2 separate regions of the Homo sapiens genome follow, and region 1 is linked to region 2. The links come from fine-mapping of genetic effects on gene expression. Tissue or cell type: sun-exposed skin. Region 2 holds a variant in brackets; the other region holds the start of a gene. All regions are shown on one strand. Distances are between the middles of the regions.

Region 1 (2,672 bases), 95 kb before region 2:
TCCAATGAGGGCACCTCATCACCATCCCTCTTCTTGGCCCCATCCCCCACCACCATTCCTTTCCTCCCTTCCCCCTGGCAGGTAGAGACTCTACTCTCTGTCCCCAGATCCTCTTTCTAGCATGAATGAAGGATGCCAAGAATGAGAAAAAGCAAGGGGTTTGTCCAGGTGGCCCCTGAATTCTGCGCAAGGGATGGGCCTGGGGGAACTCAAGGGAGGGCCTAAAGCACTTGTAACTTTGAACCGTCTGTCTGGAGGTCAGAGCCTGTTGGAAAGCAGGGGTAGAGGGGAGCCCTGGAAGCAGGGCTTTTCCGGATGCCTAGGGGTGGGCAGTGCCAGCCCCTCCTCACCACTCTTCCCCTTGCAGTGGAGGAGAGAGCCAGAGTGGATACTATTTTTTATTAAATATATTATTATATGTTAATAAAAAAATCATATCAAACCCTTGGTGTGGTTAGTTATTTGGGGCATGGCTGGGGATCTAGGGAGTTATAGGGCCATGGGTCTTTTTATCTATTAGGCTTTTTGCATCTTCTTAGCACCACTGTGCTTTGTGGAAGGGCCCCACAGCCTCGGAATTTGTACCCAGCTGGATGTAGGCTTCCACGGCAGCAGGAAATCACTTCATGTGCCCTCCTGTCTGTCCAGGGCCCTGCTGCAGCATCAGATGGGGGCTTTGACTGATCAGACAAGTTATTCCTCTTCCTCAACCCTAGGTCTGGCAGTGAGTCGGGTAAGGAGGTGATTGCTGGCTGAGCCCACAGGTCTGAAGTGCTCCTAGGTCTCAGGGAAGCAAGCCTTCATCCTCACTCCCTCACTATGCATGCATTCACTTCACCCTCTCCACTCTTCACCACTCATTCATTTTAGTTTTAATTAAACAGATCCTTCAGTGCCATGCATGTTCTGAAGGTTTTCTCTTTCTGGATTGGGTTGCCAGCCCTTGGACCAGCCGTGTGGGCCTCTGCACCCCTCACTCCCCCAACCCGCATAGTGAGAAAAGTAGAGCCCCGCAGTTACCTTACCCCCACCTCCACTGCTCTATTCCACACCCTGCAGTCCTGGCCTCTCTTCCTCTTTCCAAAGCTCTTGTCATTTTCAAAAAAGAGAACTGAGAGCTTCTGGTTCTGGTCCAAAGGGAATGCCCTGTGCCCTAAACCTGGAAGTAGGGGGAGCCACCTGGGTCCCCGTAGACTAGACCTTCGGGACTTCACCTGCGCCCACATCATGCTTGCCACATCTGACTGCAGGACCCAGGCGGGAAGGGAGCGCGCCGCGGCCCTCTGGGTCGCCTGGGGTCAGTGTCCTGAGGCACGGGCTGGATGGTGGGAAGCTACCTGGGTGCAGGGGGCCCTCCCAGCCGCCAGGGGTCGGGCTGCAGGCGGCTGGGCTTTGGGCAGACGCTTGCCAGGGTCACGGCCGCCGGCCGAGGAGGAGGGGTGGGGGTAGCGGCGGCGCCCGCGGCCCGGAGCGGGGGTTGGGGGAGTAGAGAAAGCGGGGCGCGCGGAGGAACGCTGGGTCCCCGGCGCCGCGGGAGCTGGGAGGACCGAGCCGGCCGAGCGAGCAGCGCGGCAGCACAGTCCCCGCGTGGCGCAGCGCGGCGGGGACGCGGGGACCGCCCGGATCTCCTTCCACTGCGCCCCGCGCTCTGCGGTCCTCGGCCGCCTCTTCTTCCTTCACTCACTGCCCGGGCGGGAGCGGCGCCCAAGTCGGGTGCGCCATGTCTGGGGCCGGGTAGCCCCGCCGCCCGCCGGCCCGCCAGCTCGCCCTCCGAGCCACCCGCCAGCGGGCCGGCCGGCCGGGAAGCGCGGGACAGGCAGGTAGGGGCTGGACCGGGCTGGGCGGCAGGCGGGGACGGGCAGGAGGGAGCGCGGGCGGCAGGCGGGGTGGGGGATGGCCCCCAGCTGCTGTCCCTCACTGCACATCTGGTTCCGGTTCCTCTCTCCTGGGGAAGTGAAAGTGGAGGGGAGGGCACCTCCCGCAATTAGCTCGCCGTGCCCGGCCTCCTGCACCCCCTTCTGCTCCCGTGGGTGCCGGAGTCGGAGCCGCCCTCCCTCCCGCTTGGGTCACGCGGCGGCCGGCGCTGCTGCCGTCACGTCCTCGGCCGCCGGCGCGCCTGCTTCTCTGCCCTCCTGCTCCTTCCTCAGCCTCCTCCCCCTCGGCGCGCCCTCTGCCCCAACCCGAACTTCCCGTCACCCGGCACGCGGGCGTGGGGACCCGGAGTGGGCCCTGTGCCCGTTGTCTTCCCTAGGGAGAAAGGGCTGCTTTCTGCAGGACTCTTCCCTGGCTTGGTGAGGGGAGGCCCCGGTGCGCAGGTCCTGCGGATGGGTGCCACCCACTTGCCCCTCAGAAGGTCCCACCTAATGGCCTCTGCCTGCTGCCTTGGGCATAGGGCTCCCATTCGCCCTCAGTGGATGAGGGACAGGTCTGTGCCCCAGAATTAAATCAAGAGGCTGACGCTGACTCCTGGCTTTACCTCCCAGAAGTGGAGTCTAAATTTAGCTGGGGTTGGTGTGTGTACGTGTGTGCGTGTGTGTGTGCGTGTGTGTGTGTGTGTGTGTGTCCAGAGGCCAGGTGATGAAGAAAGCCAGCCTGGCTCTATGAGATTCCTTATTCCCTGTTCTCTGGGGGAACAGCAGGAGGTTAGCAGGACTGCACATCCTGGAACCATT
Region 2 (2,500 bases):
TAGACTGGGATCCCTGTCTACCAAGCTTCACTCCCTGTCTACCAAGCTTCACTTCGTATGAGCAGGCTCTCAGCAGGGTTAAAGAAGCTAAGCAAAAAAGCCAAGAGACCATTTCTCAGCTCCGTTCTTCTGTTCACTTGATTGAATTTGCCAGGAAGAGTGTGCATAGTGCCAATCAGAAAATTCAGGATGCTCAGGATAAGCTCTAGCTCTCATGGGTGGAGTGGAAAAGGAATATTGGATACGATGATACTGATGAGTCCCACTGTGCAGAGCACATCGAGTCACGTACTCTTGCTATTGCCTGCAACCTGACTTAGCAGCTCCAGACCACATGCCACGGCCTTCTGTCCAACATCCATGATGACCACAGAACATCCAAGGTCAGGCCAAGCATATGAGGGTGATGGCAGGCGACATCTACTCAGTGTTCTGCAATGCTGCCTCCTTTGAGGAAGTGTCTGACAGCCTCCACTTCTAGCAAGGGGCAGCTGCAGAAAATGAAGGAATCTTTAGATGACTTGATGGATTTCTTGTTAACAACATGCCCCTCAACTGGCTGGTAGGTCCCTTTCACCCTCAACTGACTGAGTCTCAGAATGCTTAGGACCAAAGTGCAGAGATGGACAAGAGCAGCCAGGAGGCCCAGCGATCTGAGCACAAAACTCATTAAACTTGCCCCTGTCACCAGTGAATGATGCGGCCAGCCAGTTAACACCTTTCGTTATGTTGAAATTAACCCTGCTAGGCAACCCTAAATTGGGAAGCAAGTAGCTAGTAAAAAGGCCCTCAATTATAGTTATTTCCAGCTGGATTAAGAGCTTTAAAGTTTCTGGCTTTAGCAGATGATTTCTGTTCACCTGGTAAGAAAAGAATGCTAGGCTTGTTAGAGCCTAGCCAGAACTCACAAAAAATTCAAGTGCACTTATGTTCTCATTCTGTGGCCATTGTGTTACCCTCTGTTACTGTTTGTGTTGAATAAAAACATCTTCATGCGGGCTGGGGTAGAAACTGGTGTCTGCTCTGGTATGATCTGAGCAGGCCTCTTTACTGATTTATCTCATGATGATTGCTTGTACAACTTGATTTTAGTTTTTTATTTCTCAAATAGGAATACTACCTTTGAATTCAATATAATTCACTGTAAGATTAAAAAAAAAATGGACAAAGGACCTGAATAGACATTCTCCAAAGAAGACATAAAAGTGGCCAAGTATATGAAAAATTGCTCAACATTGCTAATCATCAGAGAAGTACACATCAAAACCACAATGAAATATCATCACTTCACACCTGTCAATGTCAAGATGGCTATTTTTTTTAAGTGGCAAGGGAGTGAAGAAATTGGAACCCTTGCACACTGTTGGTGGGAATGCAAAATGGTACAAGCGGCCACTATGGAAAACAGTATGGAGGTTCCTTGACATATTAAATATAGAACTACCAGATGGTCTAGCAATCATGCTTCTAGATATTTATCCAAAATAAAATCAGGATCCCAAAGAGTGACAACATGGAT[G/T]AAGCTTGAGGACATTATGCTAAGGGAAATAATACAGTCACAGAAAGATAAATAACTATGTGAGTCTACTTATGTGAGGTATCTAGTCAGATTCATAGGTTGACAGAGTCAAATGGTGGTTGCCAAAGGCTGAGGGGGAGGAGAAATTGGGGAGTTGCTAAACAATGTATGTAAAATTAATGTCAAACGGGAAAAAGCTCTAGAGATCTGCCATACAACACTGTACCTATAGTCAACATTAATGTATTGTACACTTGAAAATTTGTTAAGAGGGTAGATCTTGTGTTAAGTGTTTTTACCACAATAAAACAAAAAAAAACTTTTTTTTTTTTGAGGTGGAGTCTTGCTCTGTCACCCAGGCTGTAGTGTAGTGGCGCGTTCCCGGCTCACTGCAACCTCCGCCTCCTAGGTTCAAGCGATTCTCCTGCCGCAGCCTCCTGAGTAGCTGAGATTATAGGCGCACACCACCACGCCTGGCTAATTTTTGTTTATTTAGTAGAGACGAAGTTTCACTATGTTGGCCAGGCTGGTCTCAAACTCCTTCACCTCAAGCAATCCGCCTGCGTAGGCCTCCCAAAGTGCTGGGATTACAGGTGTGAGCCACCGCACCTGGCCAACAAACAATTTTTTAAAAATTAAGTATGGGCTTATTAGGCTGAGCGCAGTGGCTCACACCTGTAATCCCAGCATTTTGGGAGGCTGATGTGGGCGGATCACTTGAGGTCAGGAGTTCGAGACCACCCTCGCCAACATAGTGATACCTGGTCTCTACTGAAAATACAAAAATTAGCTGGGTATGGTGGCGGATGCCTGTAATCCCAGCTACTCAGGAGGCTGAGGCAGGAGGATCACTTGAACCCGGGAGGTGAAGGCTGCAGTGAGCCAAGTTTGTGCCACTGCATTGCAGCCTGGGCAACAGAGTGAGACTCTGTCCTAAAAAGGAAAAATAATTAAGTATGGGCTTATTTGTGTGGGTTTAAA

Evidence for each region. PIP is the estimated chance that this variant, and not a neighbour inherited with it, causes the effect.
Region 1: it holds the start of DENND4B, and the variant in region 2 is fine-mapped to the expression of DENND4B in sun-exposed skin (GTEx, PIP above 0.99).

Annotation. Positions count from the first base shown.
Region 1 is chr1:153,945,445-153,948,116 of GRCh38, reverse strand. DENND4B (DENN domain containing 4B) reads left to right here and starts at 1,399. Exons shown (of 28, transcript NM_014856.3): 1 at 1,399-1,816. CRTC2 (CREB regulated transcription coactivator 2) reads left to right here. Exons shown (of 14, transcript NM_181715.3): 14 at 1-442. The coding sequence ends at 8. RefSeq lists enhancers at 828-897, 1,709-2,209 and a silencer at 1,288-2,187.
Region 2 is chr1:153,850,272-153,852,771 of GRCh38, reverse strand. All of the region lies in intron 1 of GATAD2B (GATA zinc finger domain containing 2B), which reads left to right. It also overlaps the pseudogene LOC645965. Among named protein-coding and RNA genes, the nearest start is that of GATAD2B, 71 kb to the left of the region's middle. The variant G/T (reference allele first, on the strand shown) is at 1,520.